2 separate regions of the Homo sapiens genome follow, and region 2 is linked to region 1. A link means that fine-mapping ties the variant in region 1 to the expression of a gene that starts in the linked region. Tissue or cell type: whole blood. Region 1 holds a variant in brackets; the other region holds the start of a gene. All regions are shown on one strand. Distances are from middle to middle.

Evidence for each region. PIP is the estimated chance that this variant, and not a neighbour inherited with it, causes the effect.
Region 2: it holds the start of FTH1, and the variant in region 1 is fine-mapped to the expression of FTH1 in whole blood (TOPMed, PIP 0.93).

The regions. Positions count from the first base shown.
Region 1 is chr11:62,012,321-62,020,422 of GRCh38, reverse strand. It overlaps the pseudogene RPS2P37. Among named protein-coding and RNA genes, the nearest start is that of FTH1, 49 kb to the right of the region's middle. RefSeq lists an enhancer at 6,502-7,002. The variant G/T (reference allele first, on the strand shown) is at 3,365.
Region 2 is chr11:61,963,399-61,971,484 of GRCh38, reverse strand. It overlaps FTH1 (ferritin heavy chain 1), which reads left to right and starts at 3,851. Exons shown (of 4, transcript NM_002032.3): 1 at 3,851-4,173; 2 at 5,970-6,116; 3 at 6,373-6,498; 4 at 6,594-7,200. The coding sequence starts at 4,060. The coding sequence ends at 6,758. It overlaps BEST1 (bestrophin 1), which reads right to left. Exons shown (of 11, transcript NM_004183.4): 11 at 7,024-7,381. The coding sequence ends at 7,363. It overlaps LOC399900 (a long non-coding RNA gene), which reads right to left and starts at 4,191. Exons shown (of 1, transcript NR_187560.1): 1 at 2,606-4,191. RefSeq lists enhancers at 2,745-2,794, 2,915-2,984, 5,616-5,845 and silencers at 3,505-3,854, 4,125-4,324.

The sequences.
Region 1 (8,102 bases):
ACCCAGCCATGCTTATGAATTCTAATAAGTCACAATTACTAACATGGAGAGAGCACTTTCTATGTGCCAGGCACTATTCTAAGCACTTAGCATGTATTTCACTCATTTAATATCCACAACTCTATGAGGTGGGTAATATTATTGTACTCATTTCGTGGAGTATAATATAGAGGCTAAGGTTCTCACCATTAGTAAGTAACAGAGTAGGGATATAAACCCAGGCTGCCCAAGCACAGAGACTGCACTTTAACCAGGGTGTCCTACTGTCCCTTGTCACTCTGGCCCAGATAAAATATGGCTTTCAGAAACTGTGAAATACAGGTGCAGTGGCTCACGTCTGTAATCCCAGCACTTTGGGAGACTAAGGCAAGTGGATGACTTGAGGTCAGGAGTTCAAGACCAGCCTGGCCAACATGGCAAAACTCTGTCTCTACTAAAAATACAAAAATTAGCCAGGCGTGGTGGCATGTGCCTGTAATCCCAGCTACTTGGGAGGCTGAGGCAGGAGTCTCACTTGAATCCAGGAGGCGGAGGTTGCAGTGAGCCAAGATTGCACCACTGTACTCCAGCCTGGGTGACAGGGTGAGACTCTGTCTCAGAAAGAAAAAAAAAACAGTGAAATACAGACAACTAAAGTAGGCTCTGACCATTTTATTTTTAACCAGGACACTCCAAAGTCCAGAATTGCCTTGGCGAACACCTGCAGTGGTCTCAGTGGCCTGGCGACTGCACATCCCTGCTGGAGTCAAAGTCCCTGAACATGTCACTTGTTTAAGAAAGCCCACTAATTCATTAAGTCAAAAGTCTTCATTAAGTGACTATTTGGATAGCCATAGAGCCCTATTTCTTGGCCCAGCCAGATGGCAGGGTGCTTGTCACTGTGTTTGGCAGGAGTTCTCAGTCCCCTTTGGGTAACCCAGTCCTGGGGGCTGAAAGCATGACTGCTTCCCAGGAGACTGTGCTGGCTTTGGGGCCTTTGTTCTTGGCCACAGGCCCCATTATTCTCAGATGCTTTTCTTTCTGCTTGATCATCTTCTTTTGACCTCATCTTGGTTACTGTTCATTACCCTCATGTTTCCCCTCACACTTCCCTTTTGTCTCTAGCTTTCATCTCTTCTCCTCTCTTACCTCTTTCTCAGGTTTGAATAACATTGTGTCAATCTGCCCTTTCTTCCCCCTTCTCTTTTCTCTGACCTTGAATCCCAAGGCCATATTGGAACTGGAGCTAGGTCTATGCAATATCACTTCTCCTTCCTTTCTAGTCCCATGTCCCTCCCCCTCCAGGAAGCTCCTGCTTACCAACACTCCTGACATGGCTAGTACTTTTTTTTTTTTTTTTTTTTGAGACAGAATCTCACTACAGTGGCAAGATCTCAGCTCACTGCAACCTCCGCCTCCCAAGTTCAAGCGATTCTCCTGCCTCAGGTTCCTGAGTAGTTGGGATTACAAGCAGGCGCCACCATGCCTGGCTAATTTTTGTGTTTTTAGTAGAGATGGGGTTTCATCATGTTGGCCAGGCTGGTCTCGAACTCCTGACCTCAGGTGATCCACCTGCCTCGGCCTCCCAAAGTGCTGGGATTACAGGTGTGAGCCACCGCGCCCGGCCGCTAGTACATTTTTTATTCGTGTTTCTGTCTCTCTAGGAAGACTCTTTGCTCCTTAAAGACAAAGGACTACATTTTCAGGGTTTAGAATCGACGTGGGCAGATGGGAAATAAGTTTGGGGCTGTAAGTGAATGAATCAGTTAGACATGCCTTCTCAGATTCCTCCTGCTACAATCACTTGCTGCCTGTCCTGTGGCTGGCTGGGTGCATGCTGTAGTTTCTCCTAATAAACTGTAAGCTTCTAAGAAGAGTAGGGCATGGCATTGCCAAAAGGACATAGTCTGTCCCCTCCAGAACCCAGCACTATTGCAGAGCAAGTGCCCAGCCAACAGCTGCTGAATTGGCTTGGAGGTCAGAAGCCACTGTGACCTCTAGGCAGCAGAACAAGGAACTTGAGGGGATAGGGTGAGGGATTAGAACCCTTGGGTGTCTAGCCGGGCGTGGTGGCTCATGCATGTAATCCTAGCTACTTGGGAGGCTAAGGCAGGAGAATTGCTTGAACCTGGGAGGTGGAGGTTGTGGTTAGCCGAGATCGCACTGAGCCGAGATCGCACTGAGCCGAGATCGCCATTGCACTCCAGCCTGGGCAACAAGAGCAACAAGAGCGAAACTCCGTCTCAAAAAAAAACAAAAAAACAAAAAAAACCTCGGGTGTCAACCTTCTGGAAAATCAGCCTTTTAATTGGCAAGTCCCAGAAGAGGAAGCCTAGGCAGTTAGACCCCAGGCCACGGTGATAGGGTGCTGATACCATGCAGGGCAGGGCTCTTGGTGCCTCGAGGCTTTTGCATCTTTACTTCCTGCTGAAGTTAGAGAGAGCTGACTGGACTTAGTACAAGCATAGGAGTGGGGATCCAGGACTCAGGAAGGCCAGCTCTGCCATCCTGGGTCAAAGAGATGTCCTCCCTGGACGTCTGGCTCCCGCTTTAAGAAATCATATCAGCCAGTCATGATATGGCTCACGCCTATAATCCCAGCTATAATCCCAGCACTTTGGGAGGCCGAGGTGGGAGGATCACTTGAGCCCGGGAATTCGAGACCAGGCACTGCAACAAAGTGAGACCCCATTTCTTCAAAAAATAAAATAATTAGCTGAGTGTCATAATGCATGCCTGTAGTCCCAACCGCTTAGGAGGCTGAGGTGGGAGGATCACTTGAGCCCAGGAGATTGAGGCTGCAGTGAACAACAATGATGGCACCACTGCATTCCAGCCTGGGTGACAGAGTGAGAGCCTGTCTCAAAAAAAGAAAAAAAAGCAAAGGAATAATGGCGGCAGTCCACCATCTTGTCTTGCTGCTGTCCGAGACTCAGACATGGCTTCTAAGTTCCTATTAAACGTTTCTTTCTAAGAAACTAGATTGGTCAGCCTCTTTCTTTGGCCTTTCAGCTTCCTTAGACTCTGGGGATAGGTTTGCAAAGGCCTGCCCCCCACAGAGCATGTGGCAAGCCAGCTGGGCCAGGAGCTGAGAGATCAAGAAATGGGTGAAGGGAATGAATCATCCGTCTGGGAAATTGTAGGGTCCAGCCCCACAGGGTCGGTGGGCTTCTCCCTGTGTGTGGCGACGAGAGAGTATAGAAATAAAGACACAAGACAAAAAGATAAAAGAAAAGACAGCTGGGCCCCGGGGACCACTACCACCAATTCACGGAGACCGGTAGTAGCCCTGAATGTCTGGCTGTGCTGTTATTTATTGGATACAAAGCAAAAGGGGCAGGGTAAAGAGTGTGAGTCATCTCCAATGATAGGTAAGGTCACGTGG[G/T]TCACGTGTCCACTGGACAGGGGGCCCTTCCCTGCCTGGCAGCTGAGGCAGAGAGAGAGAGAGGAGACAAAGAGAAAGACAGCTTATGCCATTATTTCTGCATATTAGAGACTTTTAGTACTTTCACTAATTTTCTACTGTTATCTAGAAGGCAGAGCCAGGTGTACAGGATGGAACATGAAGGCAGACTAGGAGCGTGACCACTGAAGCACAGCATCACAGGGAGACGGTTAGGCCTCCAGATAACTGCAGGCAGTCCTGACTGATGTCAGGCCCTCCACAAGAGGTGGAGGAGCAGAGTCTTCTCTAAACTCCCCCAGGGAAAAGGAGACTCCCTTTCCCAGTCTGCTAAGTAGCGGGTGTTGTTCCTTGACACTTTTCGCTACCGCTAGACCACGGTCCGCCTGGCAACGGGTGTCTTCCCAGACGCTGGCATCACCGCTAGACCAAGGAGCCCTTCTGGTGGCCCTGTCTGGACATAACAGAAGGCTCACACTCTTGTCTTCTGTTCACACCTCACTATGTCCCCTCAGCTCCTATCTCTGTATGGCCTGGTTTTTCCTAGGTTATGATTATAGAGCGAGGATTATTATAATATTGGAATAAAGAGTAATTGCTACAAATTAATGATTAATGATAATCATATATAATCATATCTAAGATCTATATCTGGTATAACTATTCTTGTTTTATATTTTATTATACTGGAACAGCTCGTGTCCTCGGTCTCTTGCCTCAGCGCCTGGGTGGCTTGCCACCCACAGGAAATCTCAGGGTGGTCAATCACTTTCTTTCTTTTTCTTTTTTTTTTTAAGACAGGGTTTCACTCTGTTGCCCGGACTGGAATGCAATGGCGCCATCATAGCTCACTGCAGCCTTGCTCTCCTGGGCTCAACTGATCCACCACTTGTACCACAGGTGCTAATTTTTTTAATTTTTTGTAGAGACGGGAATCTCACTATGTTCCCCAGGCTGGTCTTGAGCTCCCAGGCTCAAGGGATCATCCCACCTTGGCCTCTCAACGTGCTGGAATTTCAGACATGAGCCACTGTGCCCGGCTGGTCCGTTGCTTTTATGTGGAGTGGTGTGGTTCACCTTTTATATGCTTGTAGACCACCATGTGACTACGGAGATGCCCTGAAAATGCCAGTGGCTTAGAGTCATTGTTAACTGAGAGCCGTCCATTGCACAGTGATAAGAAAGGGCAGCCAGCAGTCATTTTGAGACTAGTGACCTGAGTTCAGGCAGACCCACATCTGAGCATGGTCCAGCCTCAGGGTCCAGCACTTCCTTTCACTTTCGTTTTAACTATCACAGATGGCAACAACCAAGGGATTATATGTTTATTGTGGTTATTAGGGTTTTTGTTTGTTTGTTTCCAGATGGAGTTTCACTCTTGTAGCCCAGGCTGGAGTGCAATGGCGCCATCTCGGCTCACTGCAACTTCCGCCTCCTGGGTTCAAGCGATTCTCCTGCCTCAGCCACCCCAGTAGCTGGCATTACAGGCACACGCCACCACGCCTGGCTAATTTTGTATTTTTAGTAGAGACGGGGTTTCTCCATGTTGGTCAGACTGGTTTTCAACTCCCGACCTCAGGTGATCCACCCTCCTCAGCCTCCCAAAGTGCTGGGATTATAGGTGTGAGCCACCACGCCCAGCCGTGCTTGTTAGATTTATAAACCAAAAATAAAATCTTAAGCCCCCAACCAACTGAATAGACCCTCTTGGCCAAGGTGACCCCAGAAAAACCTGAAAACCTGAATTCCTGACCAGGACAGGAAGGAAGGCCAGACATGCCTCATAGACCCTCTCCCTGTGGAGTTCAGTGAAAAATTATGCCAGGGCAACAGATATATCTCTGAGACCTGTGGTTACCAAGAAGGTAGCCAATGTCAGGGAAGGCAAAACCAACTAACTACTAACACCAGAGAGCACAGTGTGAAGCACTGTTCCATTATGTAGATCATCAAATCTACAAACCCGCACTCTGTAGATTTGTGTCATCAGCTCCCTGAGGAACCTTCACTAAAATGGATTGTGAGAGTATCTATTGGAAGCAATATCTTTGGTTTTAAATGCTGTACAGTGGAAAAAACATGTTTGTGTTACTGGAAAGGGGTCCCAATCCAGACCCCTAGAAAGGGTTCTTGGACCGTGCCAGTCCATAGAGTATATTGAAAACAAGTTTATTAAGAAAGTAAAGGATTAAAGAATGGCTACTCTATAGACAGAGAAGCAGCTTGGGCTGCTCGACTGATAATACTTATAGTTAATTATTTTTACTCTGTCACCCAGGCTGGAGTGCAATGGCTTGATCTCAGCTCACTGTAACCTCCGCTTCCCGGGTTCAAGCGATTCTCCTGCCTCAGCCTCCCGAGTAGCTGGGACTACAGACGTGTGCCACCACGCCCGGCTCATTTTTGTATTTTTAGTAGAGATGGGGTTTTACCGTGTTAGCCAGGATGGTATCGATCTCCTGACCTCGTGATCTGCTTGCCTCGGCCTCCCAAAGTGCTGGGATTACGGGCCTGAGCCACCACACCCGGCCTATTACTTCTTTTCCGGGAGTTTTCCGGGAAAGAGGTGGACAATTTCCAGCACTGAGGGTTCTTCCCCTTTTAAGACAGTATAGGGTATACTTTAAGACAGTGTAGGTATAGTATAACTTCCTGATATTGCCATGGCATTTGTAAACTGTCATGGCGTTGGTGGGATGTCTTTTAGCCTGCTAATGATTATAATTAGCGTATAATGAGCTGCGAGGATGACCAGAGGTCACTTTGTTGCCATCTTGGTTATGTTGGGATTTGGCTGGCTTCTTTACTACAACCCATTTTATCAGCAAGGTCTGTGTGACCTGTATCTTGTGCTGACGTCCTATCTCATCCTGTGACTTAGAATGGCTAACTTCCTGGGAATGCAGCCCAGTAGGTCTCAGCCTTATTTTACCCAGCCCCTATTCAAGATGGAGTTGCTCTGGTTCGAACTCCTCAGCCTCCTGAGTAGCTGGGACCACAAGCGCATGCCACCACGCCTGGCTAATTTTCTTTGTATTTCTTGTAGAGCCAGACTAGTCTCAAACTCCTGTGCTCAAGCCATCCGCTTGCCTCAGCCTCCCAAAGTGATGGGATTACAGCCATGGGCCACCACACTGGGCCTTGTTATTGTTATTGAGAGCATCCACCCAGGGAAGAGGCATGAGCTTTCTTCCTGGTTCATCTCCAGGAGCAGGGAAAAGAGAGAATTTATAGCCCCAGGGCCCTGTGGGCAGATTCTTTCTTGGCTCACTCTACAGAAGGTTCCAGGAAAGCTGGCGGGCGGGGTGCACACTGGGCATTTCCCTGCAGCTCAGCCTCCCAGGGAGCCAGGGAAGACTCCTGAGAAAAGCCTTTCCAGCGTGCAGGACTACCAGCGCTCCGGAATCCCTCCTGCGGTGCCAAGCCTGGCCTCCATGCTGACTGCCCCATCAGCGGAAAGCAGGAAGCAATGGGGTGATGGGGGACTTGGGGGAGTATTTGGCAGGTGGGGAGGAAGGGGTCAGCTGGCAGCAAAGCCACGGTCCTTGGAACTTGGATCCTTTCCTTACTCTGCATTGCTCACAGCAGAATCTTACTACCCCCCCCATCCCCACCCCCACTGGACCTAGCCCTCAGGAAGCCACATGCCTGGAGGACTCTCCTGTTAGATTGGATGCTTGCAGACTGGGCACTTGCTGACTCCTGGCTGTGACACAAAGCCCTCTATTGCTCCCCCTGGGTCCCTCACCTGCCAGGATTTACTCACGTTTCTGAGAAGAAGCTCAGAGGCCAGGGGACCTGGGGCAGGAGGCTCCCTGTGAACACAGAGAGTCCTATTCACGGATGAGGGCTCAGAGTCCTTGCCCTAAGGGAGTTGGTTGGGGCACTGGGACACACAGGCAGTTCGTGGCAGAGCAGGGACTGGAGCCAGGTCTGTGATCTGAGTCACCACCCATGGCTACTGCTGTCTTCTTCCCTGCCCACCAGTGCCCATCAGTGTTAGGGAGAACTCCCTGGTTCAGGAGAGGCATCTTGTGACTCCTCATGCAGCCAAGGCCTGGGACCTGGGGCCAGGGAAGATCCTCAGGCTCTGTCATGGAAGAGCGAGTATTGGCCTTACCCCAAGACTTCTCTGCCGGAAACTCCACTCCTCATCCCCAGCTCAACCCCCAGGCAGAGGGACTTTTCTCCTCCTCCACCTGAATCTCCAGTTCCAAGAAACAAGAAGCTGGCTCCAAAGGAAGACCTCCCCTTTTTCGATGCCCTGTTTATCTCTAAAGTGGACATGATTGATGGCACAGGAATGCATTCAGCTGCAAGTAACAGAAAACATGACCAACAATGTGGGAGAGACATAGATGTTTACTTTGCTCATGTAAGAAGATGACAGAGCTTCTTCTCCAAGAAAACACCAAATGGCAGATGACACAGTGCAGTGGGAGGCCCAGAGGCCCTGGGATGAGGAACAGTGGCAGCTTCTGCAGAGGCTTCGGCACTGGCATCTGGGGCTGAGGTCACGGCCAGGGTTGGAGCCAGGGGCATGAGAGCTCCAAGGCTATGGAGCTCTCAGAGGCAAGGCTGAGGATAAGGAGTGGATGCCCGTCACCAAGCTGGGCCGTCTGGTCAAGGACATGAAGATCAAGTCCCTGGAGGAGGTCTATCTCTTCTCCCTGCCCCTCAAGGAGTCTGATATCATTTACTTTTTCCCTGGGGTCTTCTC
Region 2 (8,086 bases), 49 kb after region 1:
GAGAGCTTCATGCTGGCTTTGTCCCCCTGGACATCCCGGAAGCCTGGAAACTCAGCACATCTAGTCCAAAACCAAGCAGGCCTTCCCCAAGGGCTTTCCCCGAAACCTTCATTTCCTCCTGTGCTCCTTGGCTCAGGGAATGGCAGCAGCAGCCAGGCCTACCAAATCATAAAGCTGAGAGATCTCTTACACACTGCCCACCCCTGGCCCCCGACTTTCGCCAATCAGTCTGTTCATTTGATCTTCTCCAGATCTGTCAAATCTGTGTTCTATCTTCTCTGCTCACTAATAACTAAGGCTGCTGCCTCCTGACTGGTGCCCAGCCCTCTAGCCTCACTCTCATCCATCCTCCACATTCAATCATGAATCCATCTGTTCATGCAACAGATACTGGGCACCAAGTAACAAGCAATTTGCAAAAAGCTGGGAGTGCAGAGACAAGACAGAAACAATGCCTGCCTTCCAGGAGCTTACCATCTACAGCACCAGCGCAGGCAATCAAAAGGGTCTCATAAGGCCAGGTGCGGTGGGTCATGCCTGTAATCCCAGCACTTTGGGAGGCCGAGGCAGGTGGATCACTTGAGGTCAGGAGTTCGAGACCAGCCTGGCCAACATGGTGAAACCCCGTCTCTATTAAAAACACAAAAATCAGCCAGGTGTGGTGGTAGGCACCTGTAGTCCCAGCTACTTGGGAGGCTGTGGCAGGAGGATCTCTTGAACCCGGGAGGTGGAGGTTGCAGTGAGCCGAGATCAAGCCACTGCACTCCAGCCTGGGCAACAAGGGCAAAACTCCATCTCAAAAAAAAAGGTGTGACACATACATAGTACTTCATTAAACATACAAATATATATTATAGTTCCTAATCTTCATCACTTACATGAGCTACAAATATCATCCCAATTTGTCATCTCTGTTTTAACCTTGTTTACAACATCTTTTGTCTTACAGCTTTTCATTTTTAAATAGGCAAACCTGCCAACTGTACTTTTACGGCTTCTGACAGCCTCAGAAGAACATTCCCTACCCCAAAATTATAAAAATAATCTTGTATATATTCTTCTCAAAACTTTATACTTTTTTTAAGGCTTGGATTTTTAATCTATCTGGAATGTATTTTTAAATACTGAGTGAGTCACTTTTCTCCACATGACTGTCAATTGTTTCAACATAATTTGTTAAACCCATTCTTTCTTCCCTAATGTGACACAACAGTTTAGCATATACCAAGTTCTCATAATAGGGGGGCAGGACTATTTTGTTGCATTAATCTAGTCATCTCTTCCTGTGCCAGTACCATACTGCTTATAGCACTTTACTGTACCTTTATTATAGCACCAAATGCAAATCTATCAACACACTGACTCCTCCAAATGAACTTTAGAATCATTTTGTGAAGTTTCAAAAAAAAAAAAAATACTGTCCCAGAGACAGTAATGGCTGAGGAAAAACAAAAACAAAAAACTGCCTCTTATGGAAATTGCAGTGAATTTATGCTTATTTGGGGAAACTGACATCTTTACAGAATGAAGATTGACCGACCATTTGGGAATATGGTACCTCTTCATTTATGCTAGGCTTTTTGAATTTTTTGTCCAGCAGTAAGCATTTATAGTTTTTTCTATATATTTCTTGTTAACTTTATTCCAAGGTACTTTAAGCTTTTGTTGTCAATGTAAGTGAAAAACATTTTTTTTTCCATTCTTTTTTCCCCATATTTTCTAACTGGTGGTTACTGTTATAAAGGAAAGCTTTGGATCCTATATATGGTGACTTTGCTATACTCTTATCCTAAGAGATTCCCAGTGTAAGGTTTCTAAAAACAAAGCTAATGAGGTGTCTCTATGCTGTCTCTAGGATCAAGTTTAACCTCTTTTTATGGAACACAACCCTGCCCGATCTTGCCCCTATTCTCCACCCTAACCAGCATCCCCCAACATAAACTGTACTTTCCAGGCCAACATTCTTTCTTTCTTTCTTTTTTTTTTTTTTTTTTGAGACGGAGTTTTGTTTTGTCTTCCAGGCTGGAGTGCAAAGGCGCGATCTCGGCTCACTGCAACCTCCGCCTCCCAGGTTCAAGCGATTCTCCTGCCTCAGCCTCCAGAATAGCTAGGATTACAGGCGCATGCCACCACGCCCGGCTAATTTTTGTATTTTCAGTAGAGAAGGGTTTAGCCATGTTAGTTAGCCAGGCTGATCTCCAACTCCGACCTCAAGTGATCCGCCCGCCTCGGCCTCCCAAAATGCTGGGATTACAGGCATGAGCCACCGCGCCCAGCCCCAGGCAACATATTTTCTTAAGGCAGCTTTAACAGGCCATGCATTTCCACATTTCCACACCTTTGCATATGCTGTTCACTCTGCTCCAAATTCCCTTCCCTGTTTCTCTCCCGCACTTCACCTTCCTTTTAACTTTTTCTTCAAACTCAGCTCACGTGTCTTGCTTAGGGAGGGCTTCCCCGACCTCCTCCTATCCCAGACTGGGTAAGGTACTCCTGGTCTAGCAGCATCCTTCTGTTTACCTTATTCTTGTAGCTCTAGCACCACTAAAACGTTTTTCCTGTAAATAACATAGGTGCATTTTTAAATGAAACCGTGAACAAGAAATCACCCTAATTCCGTCGGCAATTTATTTTAGTATTTCAGTAGAGTTGCTTTTTTAAACTAAGGTTTGGAAGTCTAGCTTCCAGCTGCAGGTTTGTGAGCATCCTGAAATTCAGTTCTTCCACCGATGCGTCAAAAGACGCGACAGAACAGTGGACCTCGAAGCCAGGACCTAGGTAAGGGCAGGGCCTAGCTCTAGCTCTGCCACCCATAAATTCACATCCACCCTGTGCCTGGGACTCAGCTTAGCCACACACACCGGCCCCACCCCTCCGGGGTCTCTTTCACCTGTCACCCGCCATTAACCCCGTCAGCTTCTCTCCAATGACACCCCAGGGTTGTCCTACAGGGCCACCGAAGCCTGAAGCTCCTGTGAGTGGGGCCGATAAGAGGCCATTTTGAAAAGTCCTCAGCATGGGCTTCGCCTTTAGATCCACGTCGTTTCTCCTTTCTAACCCGAGATGTGTCCCTTGGGTGCGAAGCGACACCAGCGATTCTCTCGGAGGCCCCGGTGGCTCACCCCCACGACTCCCCGGGGAGGCGGTCCCCATCCCTAGGGAAACCCGGCCCGCCCAGCCTTTGTTGCAGAAACCGCACACGGAGCCATATTTGCTTTCAGCCAAAGGCAGACGTGGTCGGAGGAGTCGGAAGGGCAGGGGCGGACCCGAAACCCGCCGTGCGCCCCACTTCTCCATCGCGCTCCTTCCTGGACTCTGAGGAAGAGAAAATGCGCTCGACCACCTAAGGACCGCGTCTCCACCTTCCACCTTCCCAATCATCTGCAGCTTCCCAATCTGCAGCAAGGTGTCACAAGGGCTTCTCCGCAGCTATGATTTCTAACACCATGCCCCGGGCCAGGAGCCTCAGGGTGCCCGTTCGGGAAAATGGGAGCCGAATCAGGATCACCCCATGCGCCCCCGCACCCTTCCCCCGCCGGTTCCAACGCCCGGGCGCCCCTAGACCGGGGGGGGGGTTCTGAGGTGGACTTCCTGCGCCTCCTCGCAGCTTCCCTCCAACTCCACTAAACGGGCACAGAGACGCCACCGCTGTCCCAGAGGCAGTCGGCTACCGGTCCCCGCTCCCGAGCTCCGCCAGAGCGCGCGAGGGCCTCCAGCGGCCGCCCCTCCCCCACAGCAGGGGCGGGGTCCCGCGCCCACCGGAAGGAGCGGGCTCGGGGCGGGCGGCGCTGATTGGCCGGGGCGGGCCTGACGCCGACGCGGCTATAAGAGACCACAAGCGACCCGCAGGGCCAGACGTTCTTCGCCGAGAGTCGTCGGGGTTTCCTGCTTCAACAGTGCTTGGACGGAACCCGGCGCTCGTTCCCCACCCCGGCCGGCCGCCCATAGCCAGCCCTCCGTCACCTCTTCACCGCACCCTCGGACTGCCCCAAGGCCCCCGCCGCCGCTCCAGCGCCGCGCAGCCACCGCCGCCGCCGCCGCCTCTCCTTAGTCGCCGCCATGACGACCGCGTCCACCTCGCAGGTGCGCCAGAACTACCACCAGGACTCAGAGGCCGCCATCAACCGCCAGATCAACCTGGAGCTCTACGCCTCCTACGTTTACCTGTCCATGGTGAGCGCGGGCGGGCCTAAGCGGTGGCGGGGGCCGGGCGCGGTTCCCGGGGCGCGCGCTGGGGCGGGCCGGGGGTGTGGCCACCCGCGGGCTCTCCCGCCTCCCTGCGCCCTTCTGGAAAATGGAGGCTGCTCGAGGTTTCCGAGGACTTCTCTGGCGCAGAAAGTCGGGGCAGCTGGTTCTTCTCGGCTGTACCCTGAGAATGCTCCCTCCTAGGCCAGGGCCGCCTCTGCACACCCTTCTTTTTTAAGGAGACCTTGGTGTCCTGAAATCCTGGGGTTGCAAGACTGCCAGCCTGTGTGATCAATCCTGCGGTTAGGAAGGTGGAGTTTTGCTTTCCCATCTTTTCCTCTGCCTCCGGCATTTGGCCCTAAATGCCAGCGTTTTTTGCTTAGGTATCCAGCTCCCGTCCGCCTGTGTGTGGCGGAGCTGCTGGGTAACGGTGTCGAATAGCAAACCTTGGGGGCTGGCGGGAGGTGGCTTATCTTGTGGGTAGATCCCTCTCGAGCAGCCGTATCCACCTCTCGGCTCTGCTTATCTCTAAGTCCCACTTGCTTTGAAGCATATCTCTAGGAATCGCCCCTTCTGCAGTCACCGAAGTGTCACCTGACCTTGCGCCTAGGGGACCTAATTTATCTTTTATGTATCTTACTGTAAGAGGTGTGGAGTTTGGCCTACTAATTGAACCCCCAGTTCTTGGATAAAGTCCACCGACAGTTACTGGGCAAGAAATTTTTCAGTGATCAGTGGAATCAGTTTTCCCAAATCTTGGTCTTAGGCAGTGTCGTGGGAGTCTTCCTTAGAATTGCCTTGTGATTGTCCAAACTATCCCAAGAATAAATGTGTTCCAAATGGATTTGAAAACAGGCCTGTATTTCTGTGACTGTCACTGCCTTTCACAAACACTTGACTACATCAAATGTCTAAAACTGAAAATCAAATTTTTGTGATATAACTATTATAAAAGTATGTTTACATCAACATACTGTCCACATTTGCCACCTTGCATGGGGGTTTTTAATTTGTGTGTGTGTGTGAGAGACAGAGTCTCGCTCTGTCGCCCAGGCTGGAGTGCAGTGGCGCGATCTCGGCTCACTGCAGCCTCCGCCTCCTGGGTTCAAGTGATTCTCTTACCTCAGGCTCCTGAGTAGCTGGAATTACAGGCGCACGCCACCACGCCCAGCTATTTTTTTTTATTTTTAGTAGAGACGGGGTTTCACCATGTTGACCAGGATGGTCTCGATCTGCTGACCTCGTGATCCGCCTGCCTCGGCCTCCCAAAGTGCTGGGATTACAGGCTGAGCCACCGCACCCAGCAGGGGTTTTTAATTTTATAAATAAATATGTGGTACAGCTGGCAGACTCCTGAGCTCAGTTTTAACCATGCTTTAACATGGTTAATACAGGAGCAGGGAGGAGAAAAGGACTAAGTGCAGGGTCAGTACTCCAGCGCCCTCTCATCAGACAATGAATTCTGACACTGGCTGTAAGTTTTCTGTGCAGTAATACAGATCCTTAAGACATTGCCCCAGGCAATGCCCATAATATCCTAAAGGTTCCTTGAAGTTAAGTTTCAAGGATCAAGTTTCAGTTTTCTATTTTAGAATAGAAACATTACTCTTGGGTTCAATCCAGTAGCTCATCTGCCCCCCAGTCTCCTTAGGCACTGATTCCTTCATGCTGTGCTTTGAGAAAGGAAGCCTAGGCTGACGAGACCATCTTGCCTCCCTGTAGATCGTCACAGCTACCTGTCTCTGGGGATCCCTAGTATAACACATTCAGTGTTCCCCTTTCAGTCTTACTACTTTGACCGCGATGATGTGGCTTTGAAGAACTTTGCCAAATACTTTCTTCACCAATCTCATGAGGAGAGGGAACATGCTGAGAAACTGATGAAGCTGCAGAACCAACGAGGTGGCCGAATCTTCCTTCAGGATATCAAGGTGAACAAAAGATCCTAGGGGTGTCATACTTCATCATCTGGCAGTGTTCGGGTATCAGAAATCACTTAAACTAGCAATTGCCCTTATAAAGTGATGATACACTGGGCTTTTGCCTTTTGTGCTTTTTTAGGCTTACCATCTAAACTAAATTAGGCAAATAGTAATGTCCCTTTTGCCAAAACGTGGTGGTTAGAGATGATGGGCTTGCTGACTTCTAGGTTAGTTGGTAGAGATGCATTAACCTATTCTCATTCAGAAACCAGACTGTGATGACTGGGAGAGCGGGCTGAATGCAATGGAGTGTGCATTACATTTGGAAAAAAATGTGAATCAGTCACTACTGGAACTGCACAAACTGGCCACTGACAAAAATGACCCCCATGTGAGTATTGGAACCCCAGGAAATAAATGGAGGAAATCATTTGCCTTAGGGATTGGGAAAGCTGCCCACTAACTGTCTTCCCCATTGTTTTGCAGTTGTGTGACTTCATTGAGACACATTACCTGAATGAGCAGGTGAAAGCCATCAAAGAATTGGGTGACCACGTGACCAACTTGCGCAAGATGGGAGCGCCCGAATCTGGCTTGGCGGAATATCTCTTTGACAAGCACACCCTGGGAGACAGTGATAATGAAAGCTAAGCCTCGGGCTAATTTCCCCATAGCCGTGGGGTGACTTCCCTGGTCACCAAGGCAGTGCATGCATGTTGGGGTTTCCTTTACCTTTTCTATAAGTTGTACCAAAACATCCACTTAAGTTCTTTGATTTGTACCATTCCTTCAAATAAAGAAATTTGGTACCCAGGTGTTGTCTTTGAGGTCTTGGGATGAATCAGAAATCTATCCAGGCTATCTTCCAGATTCCTTAAGTGCCGTTGTTCAGTTCTAATCACACTAATCAAAAAGAAACGAGTATTTGTATTTATTAAACTCATTAGTTTGGGCAGTATACTAAGGTGTGGCTGTCTTGGATTCAGATAGAACTAAGGGTTCCCGACTCTGAATCCAGAGTCTGAGTTAAATGTTTCCAATGGTTCAGTCTAGCTTTCACAGTTTTTATGAATAAAAGGCATTAAAGGCTGAAGTAGTCTGGGATTTTTATCTATTAAGCTAACCATTTGATTCAGGCTGTTGTAGGACATGTTCTTCAGTGTGGACAGCTGTATGGCTGTGACTGGATCAGTGTCCTGCTGGTGTACACACAGGTGAGGACCTGGCTGGCGAAGCATCCCCATTAGGAAGCAGGTTAGGAATGTGCTTCATCCCTAGTGAGAATGAAAGTATTAACAGCATAAGTATGGAAGGTCCCTTCATTTCAAATACCAAAATGTTGCAGTAGGAGGGCAAAGGTTGAGACGATCCTTTTTTTTTTTTTTTTGAGACAGTCTCACTCCGTCGCCCAGGCTGGATTGCAGTTGCTCAATCTCACTGCAACCACCACCTCCTGGGTTCAAGCAATTCTCCCCTCAACCTCCTGCGTTGGGACTACAGGCACACCACGACGCCCAGCTGATTTGTATTTTTTTTGGTAGAGATGGGGTTTCATCATGTTGGCCAGGTTGGTCTCAAACTCCTGACCTCCTGTGATCCACTTGCCTCCACACCCAGCCCAAGACAAGATTCTTAAATATTAACATCCTTTGCTGAACAGGCCACAGATGTTTGCCAAGTTCCTGTCTAGCCCTAGAAGCAAGACTGAAATTGTTGCCCTTTTAAGTTTTCAATCATAATAGCTGCGTGTTCTGACCGTGAAAGTAACTGCTTGAGAATCCAGAAAAGGGAAGTTACACTTCCTCCCACGTGATTGGGGCTGAAGTGGGGTGTTTATAATTGGGTGAAAGTGTCCAGGAAATCTGGAATAAAGGGAAATATCTGATTTTGTGACAGCTTTGGGCTGACCCCAAGGAAGCAAGAAGTATTTTGGTGAGGTTCCCAGGCAGTGAGAAAATGACCTAAGGGCGCTGGACACC